Linked DNA regions of Homo sapiens. The protein of the gene in region 3 interacts with the protein of the main gene of each other region in a biochemical or structural test. Each region holds a gene or a part of one and is shown on either strand. Other genes may lie near its edges.

Region 1 (7,034 bases), on a different chromosome or scaffold from region 3:
GAGAGCTCTCCAGGAAAAAGACAAGTCTCAGCAAGATGTGGTAAACACACAACCCCCTAACCTATAAAGCTTGAGGATTATTCTAGAAAACCCAGTGCTGGAGACACTGGCAAGGTACTTCCCACATCAGCTACAGAACTTCATGCCACTCCTTAGCTATGTTGAACCAACAATAAATTCTTTCCAGGTTATACCAGTGATTAGTAGAGTAGGGAACTTTGAGATCTACTGGAAGGTAAATTCCATGTGAGCAGGAATTTTTGCATGTTTTGTTCACTGATTAAATCAATGCCTGGCACATAGTAGACGTCCAGATAATTTGTTGAATGTTTACAGGAACCAGATTGGACCATGGATATCTCTGCCTGCAAAACCTCTTGTGCTTTCAAGTTGAAGGTAACGGAAAAGTATCAGAGTAACTTTAAAAGGTATGATCCCTGAATGACACTTGAGTAACATCTATAATGAGTACATTAAAGTATCTGATTTTTTTTCCTTTTCTAATACGGTCTGTACAATCATACATTAATATATTAACAACAGTACATCAATTCAGACTCTTAAAACTTTTTTTTAAATTAATGGCAACTCTTTTTTTTTTTTTTGAGCCGAGTCTCGCTCTGTCACCAGGATGGAATGCAATGGCATGATCTCAGCTCACTGCAATCTCCGCCTCCCGGCTTCAAGCGATTCTCCTGCCTCAGCCTCCCGAGTAGCTGGGACTACAGGCGCACGCTGCCACGCCCGGCTAATTGTTTGTATTTTTAGTAAAGATGGGGTTTCACCATGTTGCACAGTCTGGTGTCAAACTCCTGAGCTCAGGCAATCTGCCCTCCTTGGCCTCCCAAAGTGCTGGGATTACAGGCATGAGCCACCACGCCCCACCTGGCAACTCTCTTCTATACCCTTTAGGACAGTGTATTTCAAATCTCTCAGAATTAAACCCTGCCCAACTATGTATTAGATAAATCCTCAAAGATGGAAATATATAGAATGTTAATAACACCAACACAATTAGCATAATTTTCCAAAGACATGAAGGAAGATGACTTTTCTACATTTTTAAAAGCCACTTTTAAAGTATACCATAGAGAAAAGTGCACAAATCATAAGTGTACACAGCCCTGTAACTAGCACTCAAGTCAATTTCTCTATACTTTTTTTTTTTTTCTTTTGAGACAAGGTCTCATTCTGTTGCCCAGGATGAAATGCAGTGCCATCATCTCAGCTCACTACAACCTGCCTCCCAGGCTCAAGCAATCCTCCTGCCTCAGCCTCACAAGTAGCTGGACTACAGGCACATGCCACCACGCCTGGCTAATTTTTGTATTTTTAGTAGAGATAAGGTTTCACCATGTTGCCCAGGCTGGTCTCAAACCCCTGAGCTCAAGCTATCCACCTGCCTTGGCCTCCCAAAGTACTGGGATTACAGGCATGAGCCAATACACCTGGCCAATTTCTCTATATTCTAGTAATGGTGAAACACACATACAAATGAGCAATTTAGGCGAAAATGTTATGGTACTATAAAAAGGCAAAAGTCCAGATTGTCTTCAGAAAAAGAACATTAAGGAATACTGAATTTAGGCCAGGTGAGGTGGCTCACACCTGTAATTCCAGCACTTGGGAGGTGGAGACAGGTGGATCACCCTAGGTCAGGAGTTCGAGACCAGCCTGGCCATCATGGCAAAACCCCGTCTCTACTAAAAATACAAAAATTAGCTGGGCATGGTGGCACGTGCCTGTAATCCCAGCTACTTGAGAAACTGAGGCATGAGAATCGCTTGAGCCCGAGGTGGAGGTTGCAGTGAGCCAAGATTGTGCCACTGCACTCCAGCGTGGGTGACAGAGCAAGACTCCTTTAAAAAAAAAAAGTAAAACAGAAAATCTGAAGTTAAGCACTATTAAATGTGGGATCCTAGTTCTGAAGCTGAATGTCAAATATCCCCAAATTCTAGGTTCAGTGGTAGTTTTGGAAACTCTAAATTAATCCAGACTCAGTCTTAAGTTGTCAAAAATTCAAACAAGATCCCTTTTCAAACTGCTATTTCCAGGATTCAGAGTTGTCACGTCTCCCCAAAAGCACGGATTTTAAATTGTGAACCAAATCATGTGGCTCATGCCTGTAATCCCAGCACTTTGGGAGGCCGAGGCAGGTGGATCACATGAGGTCTGGAGTTCAAGACCAGCTGACCAATGTGGTGAAACCCTATCTCTACTAAAAATACAAAAAATTAGAGGGGCGTGGTGGTGCATGCCTGTAAACCCAGCTACTTGGGAGGCTGAGGTAGCAGAATTGCTTGAACCTGGGAGGCGGAGTTCGCAGTGAGCCAGTATTGCGCCATTGCACTCCAGCCTGGGCAAAAAGAGCAAAACTCCGTCTCAAAAAAAAAAAAAAGAAAAGAAAGCTCGTTAAGAACAAGTCATGCCACACCAACTTCATTTCCTTTTCTGGGAAGGTTACCAAACTGGTGGATTTTATTTTCTCCTTTATTATTTCCTCTTCAGGGAATGCAGAGAGAAAGAATCCTGAAAATCTTGAGCACATCCTTGTGTGGGTGGGCAGATTCCCAAGGGGCTGGATTACGGCACCCAATTAGCACAAAAGAATGAACCATTTATGTCCACCTGGTGGGAGGTCTCCACTGGTAAACACAGACAAAGTGGAGGAGACACGCTTATCCAGATTTGCAGCTGACCAAACACACTGGAAAGGATAACTAACCCATTGGCTAGGGCCATCAACACTAAGCAAGATCTCTGTAATGTCAGAATGATGAGTTTGAAACAACCTAGTGGTTTTAACAGCCCCCATTTACTGGCTCGCAATCTGAGACAAATTCCTTATCTCCTCTAAGTGCACTCAAATGCGGGAATAATCCTGACCTCTGCACTGGGATAAGAAAAAGTCTTAAAGAGCTGGGCGCAGTGGTTCACGCCTGTGATCCCAGCACTTTGGGAGGCCGAGGCGGGTGGATCACGAGGTCAAGAGATCAAGACCATCCTGGTCAACATAGTGAAACCCTGTCTCTACTAAAAAAATACAAAAATTAGCTGGGCTTGGTGGCGCGCGCCTGTAGCCCCAGCTACTCAGGAGGCTGAGGCAGGAGAATCGCTTGAATCCAGGAGGAGGAGGTTGCAGTGAGCTGAGGTCACGCCACTGCACTCCAGCCTGGCGACGGAGCGAGACTCCGGCTCAAAAAAAAAAGAAAGAAAAAAACCACAAGAAAAAGTCTTCAAGAAAATGGGCAACTGCATTCATCATAAGGTGGTTATCCTGAAAGTAAGAAATTTCAGTGCTTAGGCACTTAGGTATATTGTATCCATTTTCAAATACAGCTGACCCTCCACATCCATGGGTTTTAAATTCTGATTCAACCAACCTCAGACAGAAAATATTCAGGGGAAAAAAAAATTAAAAATTACAGGGCAGGTACAGTGGCTCACACCTGTAATCCCAACACTCTAGGAAGCTGAAGCAGGAAGATCACTTGAACCCAGGAGTCCAAGACTGACCACAGCAACATAGTAAGACCCCATCTCCACAAAAAATTTTTCTTAAAATTAGCCAGGCATGGTGGCACATCCCTGTAAGTTCCAGCTACTCAAGAGACTGAGATGGGAGGATCTCTTGAGCAGAGGAAGTTGAGGCTGGAGTGATCATGCCACTATACTCCAGCCTGAGTAACAGTAATACCCTGTCTAAAAAAATAATAAACAATAAAACAAAAAATAGATTTTTAAAACTACAATATCACAATTCTACATAGTATTTACATTGTATACGGTATTATAACTAGAGATTATTTAAAGTCTACAAGAGGTCTGGGTGCAGTGGCTCACACCTGTAATTCCAGCTCTTTGGGAGCCCAAGACGGGCGGATCACTTGAGGTCAGGAGTTCGAGACCAGCCTGGCCAACATGGTGAAACCCTGTCTCTACTAAAAATACAAAAATTAACTGGGATTGTGCCGGGTGCCTGTAATCCCAGCTACTCAGGAGGCTGAGGCAGGAGAATCGCTTGAGCCCAGGAGGCAGAGTTTGCAGTGGGCCAAAATTGCATCACTGCACTCCAGCCTAGATGATGGAGTGAGATTCTGTCTCAAAAAAACAATTAAAAAAAAAAGTATACAAGAGCATTTAGGCCATATGCAAATACAAAGCTATTTTATAACAAGGACTTCAGCATCCTCAGATTTTAGTATCATGGGGGTCCTGGAAGCAACCTCTCACAGATACTGAAGGGTGACTATATTGGTGGCATAAATGAGTCATTTTTAAAATGTAAACTGATTTTTTTTTTTTTTGAGACAGGAGTCTTGCTCTGTCATCCAGCCTGGAATGCAATGGCGTGATCTCGGCTCAATGCAACCTCCACCTCCCAGGTTCAAGCAATTCTCCCACCTCAGCCTCCTGAGTAGCTGAGATTACTGGCACATGCCACCAGGCCAGGCTAATTTTTGCATTTTTAGTAGAAACGGGGTTTCACCATGTTAACCAAGCTGGTGTCAAACTCCTGACCTCAGGTGATCCACCCACCTCAGCCTCCCAAAGTGCTGGGATTACAGGCATGAGCCACCATGCCCAGCCATAAACTGAATTTTTAAAAAGTCAATTCCATAGTACAGTATAGAGGAGAACTAATTTAATAATCGTTCTTTTTTTTTTTTGAGACGGAGTCTCGCTCTGTCGCCCAGGCTGGAGTGCAGTGGCGGGATCTCGGCTCACTGCAAGCTCCGCCTCCCGGGTTCACGCCATTCTCCTGCCTCAGCCTCCCAAGTAGCTGGGACTACAGGCGCCCGCCACTACGCCCGGCTAATTTTTTGTATTTTTAGTAGAGACGGGGTTTCACCGTTTTAGCCGGGATGGTCTCGATCTCCTGACCTCGTGATCCGCCCGCCTCGGCCTCCCAAAGTGGTTCATTTTTAAAGGTGCATTTCTTTGGTAAGAATTTCAACAAAAGCTAACAACCTATCCCAAACTTTATTCACAGAAATAGTGCTCATATCTAGGAATAATATGCTATTAAAAAGAACAAACAAAACCTGATTTGTACATCACATTCTAAACTATGTGCCTCTCCAGGAGGGTGACTAAGATCATTAAAGATCTAGAAAAGCTGGCCAGGCACCGTGGCTCACGCCTGTAATCCCAGCACTTTGGGAGGACGAGGCGGGTGGATCACAAGGAGATCGAGACCATCTTGGCCAACACGGTGAAACCTCGTCTCTACTAAAAATACAAAAATTAGTTGGGCATGGTGGTGTGTGCTTGTAATCCCAGCTACTTGGGAGGCTGAGGCAGGAGAATTGCTTGAACCCAGGAGGCAGAGGTTGCAGTGAGCCAAGATTGTGCCACCGCACTCCAGCCTGGCGACACAGTGAGACTCTGGCTCAAAAAAAAAAAAAAAAAAAAATCTAGAAAAACCATGTCTTAAGACAAATGATTGGAAAAACAGGAAATGTTTGGCCTGGAGAACTTAACGTCAGAAGAATCGCTTTAGCAGCCCTGAAATATATGAAGAGCTGTCTTTGTTATCCTAGAAATGGTTAAAAAAAAAAAATTCCAAAAACCACAGGCTGATTTCATCTCAATGTTAGGAAGCCTCTCCCTCACCCTGACCCCACACCCTCTCCGAAAATAACTAACAACAATTTGAGCTCATGCAATTTATGCAAAGCTTAAGTTATTTGATATTTTTTTGGAGACCAGACTGGAAGACTTCTAAGGTCTCTTTCAAAGTGAATCTGTGACTGTGCTTTAAGGCCAGCAGCCAAAGGTGAAAGAGGACCAATGCCCAGCACAGCAACATTAACAATCTGTACATGTGTTGAGTGAAGGAAAAAATGAGAATGAAGAGGCCACTTATCACCTACAGGAACTTATGTCAGGAGAGTGACAAGGACAGAAGTCAGACAGCTAAATTAGAGTCGGGGGCAAAAGGGAAGCAGCAGATAGATCCTTGTCAAATATGTTAATCTGAAAACCAGCATCTTGGGCTAATGATAAAATATAAAGTGTTCTCCCCTTGACAATGTTTACTGACCAAAAGCTGTCTTAATGGAAAACTAAGCTAAGATGAAAAAAACAGGCTGAGGCTGGGCAAGGTGGCTCACACTTGTAATCCCAGTACTTTGGGAAGCCAAGGCAGAGGGATTGTTTGAGCCCAGAACTTCAAGATCAGGCTGGGCAACAGAGTAAGACTCCGTTATCTATCTTAAAAAAAAAAAAAAAAAAAAAGTATAAAAAAAGAAAAAATAGTCTGAAAATGCTTTGGCCTCAAATTATTCTTTAAAGAAAACTGTCAATAAGTGAAAAATAAACTTTATTGTATTTAAGAGAAGTCTGTTCCTTTTAGAGCACATGCAGTAACTGTCAATTTGCCTTTAAAAAGTTTAAGTTGTGGCCGGGCGCGGTGGCTCACGCCTGTAATCCCAGCACTTTGGGGGGCCGAGACGGGAGGATCACGAGGTCAGGAGATCGAGACCATCCCCGCTAACACAGTGAAACCCCGCCTCTATTAAAAATACAAAAAATTAGCTGGGCATGGTGGCAGGCGCCTGTAGTCCCAACTACTCGGGAGGCCGAGGCAGGAGAATGGTGTGAACCCGGGAGGCGGAGCTTGCAGTAAGCCAAGATCGTGCCACTGCACTCCAGCCTGGGAGACAGCGAGACTCTGTCTCAAAAAAAAAAAAAAAAGTTTAAGTTGTGCCTTATATTAAATGATTTAGACTACAGGCACATCATTAGTAAATTGTCTAAAAATTTGAAGTTAGGCAGATTTTGTAATAGACTCTGTGTCAGAAATTGTATTTTTAATAAATCTTCCAGGTGATTTTTAAACACATCACATATTTTGAGAATTGCTGTCTACAATAAAGGTGTCAATCCAAAAAGGACATTGATCTTGCAATTTCCTGTCTAGAAAGCCCAGATCTTTTACACAACAGACACCTGCTGTTCAGGTCTCAGCTCAGACGTCACCTTCTGGGAGATGCCCTCCCTGTCCCTCACTCCATCACACAAAACTTGTT
Region 2 (3,840 bases), on a different chromosome or scaffold from region 3:
TGCCTGTAATCCCACCACTTTGGGAGGCCGAGGTGGGCGGATCACAAGGTCAGGAGTTTGAGACCAGCCTGACCAACACAGTGAAACGCCATCTCTACTAAAAATACAAAAATTAGCTGGGTGTGGAGGCACGCGCCTGTAATCCCAGCTACTCAGGAGGCTGAGGCAGGAGAATCGCTTGAACCCGGGAGGCAGAGGTTGCAGTGAGCTGAGATCATGCCATTACACTCCAGCCTGGGTGACAGAGTGAGACTCCGTCTCAAAAAAAAAAAAAAAAAAAAGGCATTTACTGTCCTTGTTCTTCCCAGAAGGTTGTTCAGGAGAGAAGAGAATGGGGCTGCTATAAACATCTCCAGGTTTCGTAGGTCCCATCTGCTCTGTTCTAAAGGGCCTCTGAAAAGTCAGGTGAAGAAAACTCCAGCTTCGGCTCCTAAGCTGTACAGTTAATATGACTTCATAAAATCTGGACCTCCAAATATGCCAAGAAAAAGAATGAGAAGACAAACCAAGGATTTCAATATAAATGTGTAATTTTAATATTTAATTTAAAATAAAACCAAGGCTGGATTGGATTGGGAAAGAACGTTTGATTTGCAGAAGAATATAGGAATTTTTTTAATCACGACATTACAAGTCATTTGTGAAAACAGCCTTCCTCCTGCCACCGGCTCCCTATACAACCTGCTTAGGAAATATGGAGGTGAATCATCCCCCTTACCTCTTCCCTACCAGGGCTTGGTTCTCCCCAAAATCCAAAGGAGAAATAAATGTCTTCCGTTGCCTCTTCCCATTTTTACAGTCAGCTTCTAACCCCTTGCAAAGCCCTGAATCAGAGCCAAGCACCTCAGAAAATGAGGGTCCCTTGGTTCTCTTATTGAAGTTGGGCACATGTGGTCAGAGAAGCCCCAAGGAAGGCCACAGGGACTGACACCTTTACTTTTGGAATTTGTGCAGCCAGTTGTCAGGGCTCCCAGGTGCAACCACCTTATAACCATATCCACAGTCACAGAGGAGGGAGAGGAGGAAGGATGAAAACCCTGAGCAGGACCAGACCCCCGCCACTTTATCATGACCCTACCAAAGTCCCTCTCCCAGGGGTCATTGGCAGAGAAACCCCAACAGCTCTCTCAATCAATCACTGGGGCAGCAGGGAAGGCTGAGGGCCCTGGCTGGGGAAAAGCTGGTCTTTGGAGAGGTATGAATGTGCAGATATAAAAAGCAAGAAGAGCATCCTTATCTCCTTGCCTTGGCTAAGGCACTGACAGGAAAAATGCAAGGTAGGAATGGCAAAGAGGGGAAAGGAAGAAGACAAAAATATAGGAACTGGAGGGGTATGGGGACTACCACATGGGCCCCATACTTGTGCAAAGAAATGGGTAGAGCCATGCCTGCATGTCTGTTACCCATAACATTCCCCTCACCCTGCTCCAGAGTGGAAGGAAAATGAGTTGCAGGAATCCAGGGAGCACAATAACATAGGGTATTTCCCTGAGCCTTAGGGTTAAGGGCTAAAGAATAAAGCTTTATACACATGGCAATTTCTATCCCTTCCTATCCTTCTCAGTCCCCATCAGCCTAATGCTGACCATCCTTCCACTATAAGAGAGATGAGGGAGGTGTCGGCACTTGAGGAAAAGGCTCAGTTGGCTTGAAATGTCCACTCCTACAGTGGAAAGTCCATCTATCAGCTTATTGCTGATGATTTTTTTTTTTTATCACCATCACTCTGACCCCTCCCTGTCTTAGGTCTGAATAATTGGGTCACCCATAGGAATGCAGAACCCAGGGTGGGCAGAGCAGAGCAGCACTTGCTGGGATAGGCCTCGAGCCTGGTTTCTGAGTCCTTGAGGACCACGAGCTAACAGGAGCTGGTCTGTAGGTTGCTCTCCGTAAGCAGTGATGCAATGGACGAGGGATCGTAGACACTGTCGAATTCCTCATCTGAGCTCAGCCCTTCGTTTTTGAGAGCTGACTCAGCAGCTGAGCGGGAAGCTTTGCGCCTGACTCAGAGAGAAGAATAATGGTTGGGGAGGGGAAAATAGAAATATTAAGACAGCCACCCTTTTTGTACAAAGGAAACCCCAATTCTTCTAAGGCCTAAAGTTTATTCACAAAATCCCCAACTAATCAGATTTGGGGAGGTACAGGATGGTGGCTGAGATACTAATAAATAAATATACTGGCTTCCAACCAGAAACAAGTGACTACACAGTACCATGTTAGAGATTCTCCTCCTTATCCAGCACAGGAGAGACCATTCCCTCCCTGCTCTAGTGTCCCTATGGAGCAAGGGCAAAAGGGTAGCCCATACCAGGAGTCCTTCTCCAGAGACTTGATCCGGGCCTGGAGCTGTTCATTGACCTCATGCTGCTCCTCCACCTCACGCTGGGCCTTCTTCCTCAGGCCGTCCAGTCGCTCAATTTCCTCTTCTGCTTCATCCACCTGACGCTTCAAAGCCTTCACCCTCAGGCTTAGCTGGGCAGGATACCAAGTCCACACATCTGAATAGCATCTACTACCATGGCCTGGGACCCTCCCCCATAACAATCTTGACAAGGTATAATTGCCGCTGGAAAAATGTGGCCTTGGGCAAGTTCCTTAACCTCACATGGTTGTCTTAGGGATTAAATGTATTAACACATGTGTAATACTTACAGAACCTAGCACATCATAAGCACTCAATATATACGCTTACCATGACTTCTCTAGTCTAGTCTTTTCAATCTAATCTCTGTCCTTATACAAGGAAAGTCTAAGTTTGGAGGACCTATAGGAGATAAGGGCCTCCCTTGGCTTTCAGGAAAACATATAATATATACCTGCCCCAGGTTGCTTGGCTCCAGGGTGCCATGTCCTCACCTGGTCTTTCTGGTCATTGACATGCTGCCGCTCGTCTTCAATCTGGATGGATAGTTCTTTAACTTTCCGCTCCAGTTTTCGATTGGTAGACTGCAGAACTGTCTTCTCCCTAAGGTGAGGTAGAAGAATGTCTATGAGTGTCCCCATTTCTAAGGGAATCCTAACTTGGCCCCCTACTGTCCCCAAGGACTCCTCTCAGCCATGAGCTCCACCATTAGACTGGGCAGGATCCAGGGCAGATTCAAAGAATGAGGGAGAGTGACGTCATTCACATTTCAGAATTTCTGCAACACTCTTTGCTCTCTATCAGGAGAAAGTGTTCCCTAAAGATCAGGCCAGGCTGGCCATATCTGAGGTGGAAGATGGAGGGAGCCACAGAGGAGAAAAGCCAAGAGGGAGGGAGGAAGAAAAGGAGGGAGGAAGGGAGGAAGGATAGGCTTATGTCACCTCTCTTCAGCCTGTAGCCGCTCCTGCAACAACTGATTCTGGGACTCAAGCTGAGAGAGGCTGGCACTAGGCTTCTGGAAGCCTTCTGAGCTGGCCAACCGGGTCTTCAGGTCCTTGTTCTGAGAGGGACAGGAAGCCTCCACAGTTAGCACTCCACTGGCCATTTTACTCACCTCCTGGGGTCCATCCCTAAGAATCCTCCCCTCCCCCATCACCTGTCTCTCCAAGGAGATTTTGTCACACTCCAGGTCCTGCCGAGCAGACCTTTCCTGCATGAGCTCTGTCCTCAGCTGATCCACCTAGTGGGGATGGGTGAGAGGACCAGACTTGGGGAGGGCTAAGGATGAACCAGCAAGCTGAACAAAGTGAGGCTGAGTCATGGGAGGATGGTCTCTGAACCCTGAATCCAAAAATTCCCAGGCAACTAAAAAATCACAGCCTATTCAAATGGGAGGGGCCAGAGAATGCAAACAGAGCCTCCTTCGTCCCTCCAGGAACTAGTATCCCTTGTAAACCAAAGAAGCCCCAATTCAG
Region 3 (7,423 bases):
CAGTGTCTCTCTCTGTCACCTAGGCTGCAGTATAGTGGTGCAGTCATAGCTTACTGCAGCCTCAAATTCCTGGGCTCAAGCAATCCTCTCCCCTCAGTCCTCGAGTAGCTGGGACTACAGGCACATGCTACCATGCCCAGGTAATTTTATTTTATTATTAGTTTTTGTAGAGACAGAATCTCACTATGTTGTCCAGGCTGGACTCAAATCCCTAGGCTCAAGCAATCCTCCTGTCTAGCCTCCCAAAGTGCTGGGATTACAAGCATGAGCCCCTGCACCTAGCTGACCAACCTATTTCAGAGACCTTATATATTGTAATATACACTGAAAAGTTGAAAAAAATTGTCCATTGCACAAACAATAACTAAATTTAAAAAGAAAAATATATGCACAAGCCTGTCTTTTCATGAAGTCATTTTTTTGCATACTTTCCAGTTTTTATTTTTTTTATAATTTTATCACTGTCATCATCATACATTAGATGTAATTTGTGTTTTTTTGTTGATAATTATAGCATTATCATTCTCCTTGTTGTATAGACTTCCTTATTACAATTTTAAATGATGGTCTGCTATGCCAATTATGTTGATTTACTGTAATTTAATAGCCCAGCCCACCATCATTGGACATTGGTGGTTTCCATCATTCATTATTAGATACAGGCATATAGTGAAGTGCTGCCTCATACCTAGTCATCCACTGTAATCTAACCTCCAGTCGTATCTTTCCATTGAAAAGCTCTGGCCAAGATAAGCAGTGGTCCTCCACTTAATGAACATCATCAGTTCTTACCTTAATTGACCTCCTCGAAATTCCATGTTGTTGGCCTCTCCCTCTTTCCTGAAGTTTGTTCTTTCCTTGGCTTTTTGGACACTCTCCTCCAGAAGCGTTTTCTTTCCTTTCTGGCAGCTCCTCTTTGGTCTCTGTTCTGGCAACTCAAGTCTGCCCCCTAAATATTGGCATTCCCAGAGATGAGTCCTGTCCTTAGTCCTCTCTTGGCTTAATCTACATCACGTCTCTGAATGTGGGATTGTCCCCTCCCAAGACTTCAACTTTTATGATACATTGATGATACCCAAATCACTCCCAAATCTCTCTCCTCAAATACTCATCAGTGCCTAGCACATAGGAGACACTTGATACATATTTGTTAAATTACTGAACATCTTCACCTGGATGACCCATAGCACTTGAAAATCAGTCTGTAACTAAACTCATCATCTTTCTTCAAGCTCCTCCCAAGATCTGCTCCCACTCCTGTGTTCTGTTTTGATAAAAGCCACCGTCATCTCCTTTAAGTAAGCCAGAAACCTGAGAGTCAGCGTAGGCTCACTTCCCGCTCGCGTCTCCCCATATCTAGTCAGGCAGTCATCCAGCCTGCTGATCTACTTCCTTAGTTTCTCTAGAATCTGGCTCCCTTTTGTCTAACACTGCCTAACTTCATAGCCACGTCATCTCTCACCTGCATTCCCACAAAAATGCATTTTTGGCCGGTCTTGTCATTCTTACTAACATTCTCCTCCCCCACCAACCCCTGTCCCCCACCAACTGTCAAATCCATCTTTATACTTGCCTGGGCAACTTCACCTTCTGGCACCTCAAGAGTAAGCCTGCTGTCTCTTCCTTCCTTACTTCTCTCTGTGTTATTTATTCCCCTTACCTGGAAGGCTTTTTTCCTTCTTTGTGTCTTAAAAACTCATTCCGACCTCTCCTTTAGAATGTATAAGCAACCCCATCTCTGGAAAGCCTTCCCTAAGTCTCTCCTGCTAGACCACTCTGAGCCTGCCAGGAATCTCAGTGCTTACACAGTTTATCATTACTTGTTGATTGTCTACTGCAATAGACTGAGTTTCCTAAGGCAGGATCCTGAGTATTTTATCAAGGGGTTGACAGAGGTGTTCAGTAAGTACCTGTTGAGTAGAAGAATTTTTTTTTTTTTTTTTTTTTTTTTGAGACGGAATCTCGCTCTGTCACCAGGCTGGAGTGCAGTGGTGCAATCTCGTCTCACTGTAACCTCCGCCTCTTGGGTTCAAGCGATTCTCCTGCCTCAGCCTCCTGAACAGCTGGGACTACAGGCGTGCGCCACCACGCCCAGCTAATTTTTGTTATTTTTAGTAGAGACGGGGTCTCACCATGTTGGCCAGGATGGTCTTGATTTCTTGACCTCGCGATCTGTCCGCCTCGACCTCCCAAAGTGCTGGGATTACAGGCATGAGCCACCGCGCCCTGCGGAGTAGAAGTTCTTTGGATAAACACATTCTAGGAGTGGGGTCAAAATGTGCAAACCCACACGTGAAGAAGATGACTAATAAATTGTTTCTCCAAAGAGTTGTATTGATTTACACTGCCACCAGCAAAAAAGCTAATATATCAACTGAACCGTGTTTCTAACAACCATTTACTGAATGCTTATCATCTGTCAGGTGTTGTGCCAGAAGAATGGAGTTTGTCTATAAATATTTCATCATTTCGAGTAGTGCAGTCCAACAGAACTTTCTGCATTGATGGAAATATTCTATATTTGCACTGTCCAATAGGGTAGCTATTAGCCACATGTGGCTTCTGAGCCCTTGAAATGAGACAAGTGTGACTGAAGAACTGAATTTGTCATTTCCTCTAATTTTAGTTAATTTACATGTAAATGTAAACACTTACTGGTGGCAAGTGGTCATCTTATTGAACAGTGCCGCTCTAGAGAGAAAAAAGGAAATCAGTCAGTAGATGTAACTGCCACATTCTGGATTATTTTTTAAATGTTAGTGGCTCTAAGCCCACATCATTAAGGTGTGGCCACCTTTCAAGTGCTATCATTTTTATTAGTCAGCACCACCTAATTTGGGAAATATTTTATTTTTTTTTCCTTTTTTTTGATTAAAACAATTTTTAAAAAATAGAGATGGGGTCTCACTATGTTGCCCAGACTGGTCTCAAACTCGTGGGCTCAAGTGATTCTCCTGCCTTGCCTTCCCAAAGTGCTGGGATTACAGGCATGAGCCACCGTGCCTGGCCAGATTTGGGAAACATTTTATAAATAGGTGCTTAGATCAGGAGAGCAATGCCTTACATCAGGAATACAACCAAAATGTCTAAGTCCGGAGACTCGAGGCAAAGTGGGAAACGTTACTCACAGTGCTTTTTATCCAGAGGCGTGGACTTAGTTACTCCAAAGGAGTCCAGAAGCATAACACTTCTGGAGAGGCATCTACTGGACTTGTTTTTCCACGAAACTTCTAGACTTGTTTTGATCAGGCAGGAAGTGAAGCAACTTTTCAGGGAGAGAGCCCAGCATCTGCATCTCCTCTGGGACAGACCACACCTTTTACCTTCTACTTGTGAGCCTAGGACGAGTTTTGCTTTCCAATTAAGGGAAGAGCAGGGCAGGCAAAACTATTCTCTTACAAGATGGTTTTTTAAGATTTCAAACCCAAGGTTATATTTTTAATCGGTACCTGTTTGGATTCTCCAAATTAATTTATATGCTCTTAAAATAAAGACACTTAACGTCACTGCACAATTCTTTGCACATGGAGGACTTCGAAAGGAATAAGCACACTGAATTGCATTAGATGAATCCTGTCAGATAAGCACTTGTGACCTACTGGCAACCTTTTATAAGCTGATGATGGGAGAGGAGTTTCAATCTCTTTATTGGAGTTGTTGGAAATGTGCCAAAGAGATAACCTGGAATATATTGTCCTGAAAAGTCCTGTTTTAATATTTAATACGAACATCTTATAACCCTCGGAATTCGGGTAGGCAGTTGTTGGGCTGAGAAATGTGGGGTACAAGGCCGTGTATGTGTTGGTTAGCCGGGCAGGCCTCTAGACAGGACCTAAAACTTTGAGGTTTTCCCAGTTCGACTCTTCGTAGGAGAACTGAAGCTGCCTGTGTGAGGCCCTGCGAACCTCGCCAAAAAGTCTTCCTACAGGATGCCCCCGCGACCTCACCGGGGAAACACCGCGGACAGTCGGGCCAGCAGCGCCCGGAGCTCACTCCAGGTCTCCAAACTTGCAGCACTTCCCAGAGCGCGCGCGCTCGGAGCGGGACCTGCTTGCTCCAGTGCACGCCGCGGAGCGAACCATCGGGCTGGCGGGGGTGGAGGGGTGCAGGCGTGGGGGCTGCGGGCCGCTCGGGCCTTGGGCTTCTCCTGCCGCCGCCGCCGCCTCCCGCCCCCGGCCAGGAGTCGCGCGTGACGCGGTTCGCCGCAGGAGCCTCGAAGGCGCGGCGCCGGCGAGCCCTTCCCCGGCAGGCGCGTGGGTGGTAGCGGCCAATTTGACAGTTTCCCGGGCCGGGCGGCCAGCGCGGAGGCGCCACGCTCGGGTCGGGGGCGGGCTGACGCCGCCGCCGCCGCGGGAGGAGGGACAAAGGGGTGGGTCCCCGCGGGTCGGCACCCCGGCGGTTGGGCTGCGGGTCAGAGCACTGTCCGGTGGTGCCCAGGAGGAGTAGGAGCAGGAGCAGAAGCAGAAGCGGGGTCCGGAGCTGCGCGCCTACGCGGGACCTGTGTCCGAAATGCCGGTGCGAGGAGACCGCGGGTTTCCACCCCGGCGGGAGCTGTCAGGTTGGCTCCGCGTAAGTGCCTCCTTGTGCCGCGCGGTTGGGAGGAGGGTCGTGAGCGTGAGCGTGGGAGCGCTGGGGGCTCTGCTCGCGTGCTGCTCTGAAGTTGTTCCCCGATGCGCCGTAGGAAGCTGGGATTCTCCCATCCGGACGTGGGACGCAGGGGAGGGGTAGGTTTCACCGTCCGGGCTGATGACTCGTGGCCTCCGGGGCTCCTGGAACCTTTACTCTGAAGTCACTTGGGCTGGAGATTAAGGCGCGAGTAGGGGACACTGTCTTGAACCCGGTGTCCTGGATTTCTGCTGGCTTGGAGGCATCTCGTGTCTGTTGTGTCGCTTGCATGTCTTTGTGTTTTCCTTCTCTATTTCAAACCACACTCGGTATTGATGCAAAGTTACAGGCTTGTGTACGTGAGAGAAACTGAAAACTCATCACAGAGCAGAATCCCTTTTCCCTTTCAATCAGCTGCGTCTGTAATAGAAGTAAAAGTTGTTTTTTTTTTTTTTTTTTTCCAGTAGGGAATGGGGATGGAGGTTTGGAAGGACCCACAAAAGAGGAGTGTGATGAATGCTTTGTATTCTAGTACTAGCCTACCTGTCACCAGTTCTTTTTATGTCTTCATTTGTCAAGTTTCTGCTTTTACACGGTAGTTTAAGTTATAAATAATCAGGGATTTCTACCACAGGGTTTTAACATTCTTGAAATGTGGACAAACTTGGGAGTGAGTGCTCCCGCGCTTAGTAATGGAATACAGCCTCCCACCTCTATTTCAGCTTCAGTTCTTAGGCTAGGCTGCTTTTCTGGCAGCTGTCTGGCCTGAGTAATGATGGTTGTGGTTTCCCTGAAGTTCCCAGCGGAGAGTCATCCCATGATAGAAACTGCCTTGCGCTTCTCACTCACGCTCTCAGCCCGGGGAATCCCAGCGGGGAGGAGGGAGGGAGGTCGTTTTCTTCAGCTCCCCAGGTGGTCTGTGCTGGGTGTGCTGACGGTCCTTTTGGGAAAACAGGTCCACCTTTGCCAGCGTAATTCAGAAAGAGATGTAATTTTCTGAGAGCACACACCTGGGCAGGAGATCGCTTGAAGTGAGAAATTCGTAGTGGTAAATGTATTTGTAGCAAAGTACCACTGCATATCCTGCTTGAGAGGATGAAATTTGATTATTTAGTAAGTTTTCATGAACAACTCCACTTCAGTGTGGGGATTACGCAGATGAGCAAGAGCGTGGCTCTGTCACACAGTCCCGTTGGGAAAGCCTGCAACTCATTAAGAATCCGATGAGTGCCATTTAGAAATGTGGACAGGGTACTGGAGCTTCCTCATTGTGGGGAGATGGCAGAAGCGGAGGTGCTTTACTAAAGCACCGGTGGCTTTTGAGGTGTTTCTTGTGTTTTTTTCAGAACTACTTCTGCAGTGGGGCCACTTTATTTCTTTTCAGAGCTACTTATGCAGATTGATGAAGGGGAACTTTCCCCTCTGAAATGCTGCTGTAACTTTTTCAGTACCATCCAGATATTATAATACTGAATGAGCCCCTACTCCTGCCAGTCACTGTGGGGGATACAAAGATGAACAAGATTCAATTTCTGCATTTAGGGGTCTAGTGGACCTGAAACTGTTAGACTTTACTCTGCAATCTGTGTCGGGATTCCTGAGACTGAGGGAGGGAATGTATGATGCCGATGCACACTCTGCAATACAGAAATTTAGCAAAGAGTGGGATTGGTCCTATATGCATTCCCTTCAGGGGATTCTTGCTGGGAATAAAGGGCATTTGAACAGTTACCTCACCCGAGCAAGCCACTATAGAAAATGGGGCCAGTAATGCGCCCACCTCACCGGGCTGAGTGAGGTCTGAATGAAATGACAGAGAGTACAAGGCATGTGGTGGATGCTACGTAAATGGTGGTAGCTAGTAATAGGAACAAAACGGGTGCTGAAAACTCTTAAGTGTTGGGTCCTGGGTTGATAAGGGAGGTGAGATCTAAAGATACAAGTAGGAGGTGCCAGGTAGGTGTCCAGGAAAAAACTGAAAGAGTTGTTGTTCACACTCTGTTAAAAGGCCTTGAAGGCCATAACGAAGCTTTGGGTGGGGGGAAGTCAGAAATCCCTCATGTATTAAATGACTTGACTTTCCCTACAAAAGAAGCGAACCAGTTTCCCAGTAAACATCCCACCCCATAACTATTTTTGAGGCATTCATAGGCTTAAGACCAATGAATTTTTACATCACCCCCGGGGGAATTGCATTTGCAATGACTTCTGCCTACATTTAACTTTTGATCTAGTTCTTTGTACACTGACAAAAGTTCACAGCCAACCATTTCTCTTCAGGACAAGTGTGAGAACTTTCTGCATACTGCTGAAGGCAAGGGAGATTTTGAGTTTAGCAAGGTTTTCTCTCCTTAAGAAGGTTATCTTTTTACGAGACACAAGTTATTGAAACTAGGCGGGGCCACTTTAGTCCTGTGTACAATAATATGTGTAGTAATATAAATAGTAATTTAAAAAGTCATGCAGACTTGGTTGGGGAGAGGCATGAAGTTTGGGTGTGGTGGGGGCGGGGTGAAGCGGTAGAAGGGTTCGCAATCACTGCTGAAACTTTCAACATATTCTACCAACAATATGAGCCACCAGGGAATTCCTTGCCTCATCTCTAGAACGAATCCCATTAAGCAGTTGTGGCTACAGATGAATTTATCTAGGTTGAGAGCTGATTCCCAATAACATGCCTCATTGATTTGACTCTAAGCAGTAATCAGGGGCCCAACAGTTGTTGGACCAACCAGCCTTGATTTTCCAGAGAAGGTGATTTGGTATATGGTAGTGTCTGAGGGTGAGATTGCCCCAGATGGGAGTGGAGGGAAGCAGA
Region 4 (7,034 bases), on a different chromosome or scaffold from region 3:
CTCCATCTAAGGCACTGCCCATTTATGGGTACTGCCACAGGGATGAATTTGACATAAGACTCTGGACTATGCAATCTACCATCAGGCACGAAAGATCTATGAAGTTCTCCCAAGGGTTAGTAAAGCACCTGTAAATAGCAGGGCTCGATTTACCTTAGCTGATATCCAATAACCTAAAAAACCTACATCATTGTTGAAATTCTCCGACTGGAAAAGAAACCTAACACACAACTACAGGTTTCAAGGCCGGGCACTGTGGCTCATGCCTGCAATCCCAGCACTCTGGCAGGCCGAGGCAGGCGGATTGTTTGAGCTTGGGAGTTTGAGACCAGCCTGGGCAACTAGTGAAACCCCATCTCTACTAAAAATAAAAACTGCAGGTTTCAAGAAGTTTATCTTCCGTATTTAAAGTCTTCCTTCCACATTTGTAACATAATAAGGACAATTTTTCTAGCATTAATTATTAGTAAACTGTGGATTACCATTTTACTTTTTATCAATTCTGAATTTCCCAAAACATGATTCCTTTATACCCAGATTTATGTCAAGCTCCAACCAGTTCAAATATGCATGGCTGATTTAACATACTATTCTGACACAATAGGACAATTTCTAGAGTATTTTCAGAGTAGGTAGATATTTTTCCATTTTATCACACCCATCTCTTCAGCATGAACTAAAAAGAAGTATTACACAGGATGAAAAGTAAACTTCGGTCCCATTTCTTTCCTATCAATTTGTGTTACAACATTTCTAAGACTTAACTATTACTTGAAATACCCAAGAGAAGTGGATTCAGATTCTCCAGATGTCCCTCTGCAAGCATCTCTCATGATTAAAATGAGCCAGTCCAACTTAATACATCTCCAATAACTAAGTTACTGAGCAACTGGCAAGCATAAGAATGAGAATTAAAATATGAGCCAGTCCAACTTAATACATCTCCAATAACTAAGTAAGTTACTGAGCAATTGGCAAGCATAAGAATGAGAATACTGACCACAAAAAAAATCTTCAAACACTGATTTTCTAGAAAGGCCTGCCTCTCTTTACCTAAAAAGCAGTAATGACCTACCTTGTTTTCGAACATCTTCTACAGCAGCCACAAGCTCCTCCTTGAGAAACTGGCTCTCCTTCGCAATTTTATCCCCCTTCTCCAAGAAATTCTCAGTTGCTTGTTCAACAGATGCAGCCAAAACATGGGCCTTCTTAGAACGACCTCTCTTCTTATTAGAGGGCCCTTTACTATTGGTGTTTACAAGGGTTGTAACCTAAAAGTTTCATTTTTAACATTAAACTGGAGTCAATTAAAATGACAAACTAATATCTTTAAAGACAGCAAGATTAAGTTATTCTTTTAAAAAATCACATGAGATTCCACTGAACATTAACATACAATTCCCCATATTTAAGATATACAGCAATGATGCTATATTTAATTTCCAAAATAATTCAGCTTTCTTAATGTGTACAGAGAATTATTTAACACATATTTTAATTTCTCAAATATGATCATTAGGTTTTTAGTTTGATTTTACAAATTAAAAAATGATTAGAGACAAGTTAGATGTCTCTACTATATGTCACCAAGATGTTCCAGAAAGAGGTTAACAATGAACTTAGCTTTATCTGGAGATCACACTGCCACTGTTTTCAAACTTTGCAAAACATTTTAAGATAATTTGCTTCTGAAGTCTTTTGACAGTTTATTCACACAAATCTCAGCAATTAGTAAAGGTCCCAATAAACGAATGATTGCCCAAAGAAGCCTACAGTGATGACGCTTTATGTCTTAGAACATTACCATCATTAATACACATAATACCAGATTATCTCTAGGTTAAAGATGATGAATATATGTTATAGTGTAAATTTGCCAAACAAGACTCATTTTCTCTCTCTCTCTCTGAATCTCTCACATACAAACAATAGACATACTATTGTAAAACACTAAAAGTACACAGCTAGTTGCTAACAGTTTATGAACTACCCTAACATTGTGACATTTGTAGCATACCAAACCTAAACCCTCAAGTTGAATTACCTGCTAATTAATCCCACACAATGAAAGGTGTGTTAAGCAGAGTGAGAGACCTTAACAATCAAGGATCCAGACTCCACCTTTCTTGGGTTTCCCCTCTGAAGAAAGGTGAAGTATCTGCAAAGCACAAACATTTGCAAAGTTGCACTACATACCATGGACCCGTTACTAGCAATAAGACTGAAGAAAACGACAGCAGCAGCGTTCTCAAGGGTTAACTAAACCCATGCATCAATATTCAAATCATCTAAGAACTGTCACCTAAACTCAAGTACTGGAATTAAGGCTTTGAACTAAATAACCTTGCTCTTATGGTTGTTACCCAGGCCTGTGCTATAGAACCATGTTACAATGTATTTGTGTTTTCAGATTCTTACCTGTGTAACAAGAGGCTCCAACAGTCTCTCAACTGCCAGAGTCCTGATCTCTAGACTTTTAGGATCCCACTTGAAGTTTATGTTGCCTGCATGGACAGCAGTCATTTCTAAATAAGAAACAAAAAGTCAGTCAGGCAAACATCAAACACAAACATGAAATATGTAACAAATCTTCTCCTACTTTGGGACTTTTGCATCAGGAAAGCTATATTCACTATAGATGAAAAAATTCTAACTAGCCTACACATGAAGACCCAGTAAACCTTACAACCTCTTAATATTTAATGATTTCAGGCTTACAAATAGGAGGGGTACTACAAGAGGGCATTCCCAAACACACAGAATGTTTCCCTTTGGGCTTCTCTAGCACCAAGACTTCCTACCTCAGTTCCTACTCACTTTATCTGCCCCACCTTTAGAAACAAGATGAAAAGCTAAAGTGAATGAAAGCTACTTTCTTTTTTTTTTTTTTTTTGAGACAGAGTCTTGCTCTTTCGCCCAGGCTGGAGGGCAGTGGTGGATCTCAGCTCACTGCAAGCTCCGCCTCCTGGGTTCACGCCATTCTCTGGCCTCAGCCTCCCAAGTGGCTGTGACTACAGGGGCCCGCCACCACGCCCGGCTAATTTTTTTGCATTTTTAGTAGAGACGGGGTTTCACCGTGTTAGCCAGGATATGATGGTCTCGATCTCCTGACCTCATGATCCACCTGCCTCGGCCTCCCAAAGTGCTGGGATTATAGGCGTGAGCCACCGCACCCGGCCAAAAGCTACTTTCAAAGACACTGCTTCAAAAACGAATACAGAAGATCCTGATTTTTCCTACTCCACAACATTCATGGTACAGTAGTATCTAAAAGGTATGCTTCACTTCATTTTTTGATGGATTCCTAGAGAAGGACTTGTCTTATTCTATTAAAACATAATGTTTAAATCAGCTGCCCTCTGCACCCACAGCTATTATCACTCATAGCCAGAAGAAATTTCAAATCACACTTAGTCAAATATCACTGTATCAGTGTCAAGAGAAACTTCTGTCAGACAGCGGCTTTAAGAATAGGGAGAAAACATCAACGAAAATAACAGTTAGTCTTTTCTTCTAAAAGTAGTGCCTTCAATTATTAAAGAAAAAAAGAAAAGAAAAGGCATGAAGCTGAGGTAAACACTAATATAAACTTTCTAGACAACAAACTGCTGGTAGACATTTAAAAGCTTAAAGGCTGGGCGTGGTGGCTCACTCCTGTAATCCCAGCACTTTGGGAAGCCAAGGCGGGCAGATCACCTGAGGTCGGGAGTTCGACACCAGCCTGACCAACAAGGATAAACCCTGTCTCTACTAAAAATACAAAATTAGCCAGGCTGGTGGTGCACGCCTGTAATCCCAGCTACTCGGGAGGCTGAGGCAGAAGAATCGCTTGAACCCGGGAGGCAGAGGCTGCAGTGAGCCGAGATTGTGCCATTGCACTCCAGCCTGGGCAACAAGAAAAAAACTCCATCTTAAAAAATAATAATAATAATAAAAATTAAAAAAATAAAATCTTGGCCAGGCGCAGTGGCTCACGCCTGTAATCCCAGCACTTTGGGAGGCTGAGGCGGGCAGATCATGAGGTCAGGAGATTGAGACCATCCTGCCTAACACGGTGAAACCCAGTCTCTACTAAAAATACAAAAAAAAAATTAGCCAGGCGCAGTGGCGGGCACCTGTAGTCCCAGCTACTCGGGAGGCTGAGGCAGGAAAATGGCGTGAACCCCAGAGACGGAGCTTGCAGTAGCAGAGATAGCGCCACTGCAGTCCGGCCTGGGCGAAAGAGCAAGACTCCGTCTCAAAAAAATAAAAAATAAAATAAATAAATAAAATAAAATCTTTAAAAAGTACATTTGTATGACCCAGAAAATCTACTGCTAAAATCTTATTCTAAAGTTAAGGAACATGTAAAAACTGGGATACAATGATGTTCACAACACTGCTTTATATAAACATTAAAAGTTATAAATTACCTAAATTTCAAACAACAGATCACTCAATAAATTATGTAACAATGACACAACGGGCTACAATGTTACTCTTAAAAACAATGTTGGCAAATTAAAAAACAAAACAACCAGCCTGGCCAACATAGTGAAACCCCGTCTCTATTAAAACTACAAAAATTAGTCCAGTGTGGTGGTACACGCCCGTAATCCCAGCTGCTCAGGAGGCTGAGGCAGGAAAACCACTTGAACCTGGGAGGTGGAGGTTGCAGTGAGCCAAGATCGCACCACTGCACTCCAGCCTGGGCAACAGAGCAAGCTCTTGTCTCAAAAAAAAAACAAAAACAAAAAAAAACCAGTGTTATCAGTGCCCAAGTATTTATTTCTATTAAATACCATTTGCATGGTGGTTCATGCCTGTGATACCAGCACTTTGGAAGGCCAAGGCAGGAGGATCACTTAAGCCCAGGAGTTTGAGACCAGCCTGGGCCACACAGAGAGATCCCATTTCTACTTATTTTTTTTTTAAAAAACGGACCATTTCCCATTAATAGAAACCAAAGTTCCAGGTCTGAAGCACTGTATTGTGCGGAAAGGGGACAAGACTAACAAGATCATATCAAAAGACACAGGAAGCAAGGGCTCCCATCAGCCAAATTTAGGACAACTATCAAAGAGAATAATGACTGTAACTGTCTGTAACTAAATAATTAAATAAATATCCTTAAGACCATAGGGATCCTCAAAAGAAAGGGTATGGGGAGGGAATTTCTTTACCATGAATCTAGAATAGAATTAGAAAATGACCATCTTGCAACCCCCACTGGTAAAAACTGATCCAGCCAAGGATTAGCAATGAATGTCAAAACTACTGGGTGAAAACTGGCCAGGCATGGTGGTTCATGCTTGTAATTCCAGCACTTAGGGAGGCCAAAGTGGGTGGATCACCTGAGGTCAGGAGTTCGAGACCAGCCTGGCCAATGTGGTGAAACCCTCTCTCTACTAAAAATACAAAAATTAGCCAGGCGTAGTGGCGGTTGCTTGTGATCGCAGCTACTCATGAGGCTGAGCCAGGAGAATCGCTGGAACCTGGGAGGCAGAGGTTGCAATGAGCCGAGATCATGCCACTGCACTCCAGCCTAGGCAACAGAGCAAGATTCCATCTCAAAAAAAAAACGTAACTTTGAACTAGATCCCTCATAAAAGACTACCAACCACTGCCTTCTTCAGAGAGCTTTAGTGGAGATTAGATAGAACAAAGTATGATCCATTGACTAATGCATGAGTCCATGCTAATATGAATAAAGAAGGAAAAGTTCTTCCAAACAATAGGAAACAAACTAATAAATGTAGAAAGAACAATGTATTTAGAAAAATCAGCATTCAGGAACCATAATATTAATTGCCTCAGGCAAGAATCAAAGAATGCTAACCAAGTAGATTAGCATTCAGTTTCTCAGTAGCGTGATCTAGTGTCATAGTAACTCCCAACAGATTATTTATTTATGACAGATGGGGGAAATAGTAACTTCACAGTCCAGAAACCTGAGATGCCACCTTAACCAAGTAATCAAAATTACTGTCCCTAATAAGGACACAAACCCACATCACGTATCTCCTAACACGATGCACTGAGAAGGATACAACATCACCTCTGTGTTATTTCGCCTGAAAATTACATAACCTCAACTAGTCATGAGGCAACATCAAATTCAAAGCGTGAGACGATCTACAAAATAACTGGCTGTAGTCTTGAAAAATGTCAAAGCAGCCGGGCGCGGAGGCTCACGTCTGTAATCCCAGCACTTTGGGAGGCCAAGGCGGGTGGATCACGAGTTCAGGAGATCGAAACCATCCTGGTCAACACTGTGAAACCCCGTCTCTACTAAAAATACCAAAAAATTAGCCGGGCGTGGTGGCGGTCGCCTGTAGTCCCAGCTACTCGGGAGGCTGAGGCAGGAGAATGGCATGAACCTGGGGGAGCAGAACTTGCAGTGAGTGGAGATGGTGCCACTGCACTCCTGCCTGGGCCACAGAGCAAGACTCTGTTTAAAAAAAAAAAAAAAAAAAAAAAGACAGATTAAGAAACATTTCCCCTCCCCCTCTCCCTCCTCCCCCTCTCCCTCCTCCCCCTCTCCCTCCTCCCCCTCTCCCTCCTCTCCCTCTCCCTCCTCTCCCTCTCCCTCTCCCCACGGTCTCCCTCTCCCTCTCTTTCCACGGTCTCCCACTGATGCCGAGCTGAAGCTGGACTGTACTGCTGCCATCTCAGCTCGCTGCAGCCTCCCTGCCTGATTCTCCTGCCTCAGCCTGCCGAGTGCCTGTGATTGCAGGCGCGCACCGCCATGCCTGACTGGTTTTTGTATTTTTTTGGTGGAGACGGGGTTTCACTGTGTTAGCCGGGCTGGTCTCCAGCTCCTAACCGCGAGTGATCCGCCAGCCTCGGCCTCCAGAGGTGCCGGGATTGCAGACGGAGTCTGGTTCACTCAGTGCTCAATGGTGCCCAGGCTGGAGTGCAGTGGCGTGATCTCGGCTCGCTACAACCTCCACCTCCCAGCCGCCTGCCTTGGCCTCCCAAAGTGCCGAGATTGCAGCCTCTGCCCGGCCGCCACCCCGTCTGGGAAGTGAGGAGCGTCTCTGCCTGGCCGCCCA

Evidence for each region.
Region 1: the proteins of TJP2 (region 3) and OCLN form a complex in vitro, tested with the Homo sapiens proteins (3 studies listed by BioGRID).
Region 2: the proteins of TJP2 (region 3) and CGN form a complex in vitro, tested with the Homo sapiens proteins (2 studies listed by BioGRID and IntAct, with this or other methods).
Region 4: the proteins of TJP2 (region 3) and CTNNA1 form a complex in vitro, tested with the Homo sapiens proteins (2 studies listed by BioGRID and IntAct, with this or other methods).

Annotation. Positions count from the first base shown.
Region 1 is NC_000005.10:69,495,768-69,502,801, reverse strand, and holds part of OCLN (occludin), read right to left. Parts: intron 1-7,034. UniProt on the Homo sapiens protein: May play a role in the formation and regulation of the tight junction (TJ) paracellular permeability barrier.
Region 2 is NC_000001.11:151,535,365-151,539,204, reverse strand, and holds the end of CGN (cingulin), read right to left. Parts: intron 3,606-3,840; coding exon 3,522-3,605; intron 3,426-3,521; coding exon 3,307-3,425; intron 2,969-3,306; coding exon 2,860-2,968; intron 2,476-2,859; coding exon 2,312-2,475; intron 2,001-2,311; coding exon 1,859-2,000; 3' UTR 513-1,858; downstream 1-512. UniProt on the Homo sapiens protein: Probably plays a role in the formation and regulation of the tight junction (TJ) paracellular permeability barrier.
Region 3 is NC_000009.12:69,169,864-69,177,286, forward strand, and holds the start of TJP2 (tight junction protein 2), read left to right. Parts: upstream 1-4,413; 5' UTR 4,414-4,509; coding exon 4,510-4,569; intron 4,570-7,423. UniProt on the Homo sapiens protein: Plays a role in tight junctions and adherens junctions. Acts as a positive regulator of RANKL-induced osteoclast differentiation, potentially via mediating downstream transcriptional activity.
Region 4 is NC_000005.10:138,777,414-138,784,447, reverse strand, and holds part of CTNNA1 (catenin alpha-1), read right to left. Parts: intron 2,526-7,034; 5' UTR 2,524-2,525; coding exon 2,419-2,523; intron 1,272-2,418; coding exon 1,076-1,271; intron 1-1,075. UniProt on the Homo sapiens protein: Associates with the cytoplasmic domain of a variety of cadherins. The association of catenins to cadherins produces a complex which is linked to the actin filament network, and which seems to be of primary importance for cadherins cell-adhesion properties.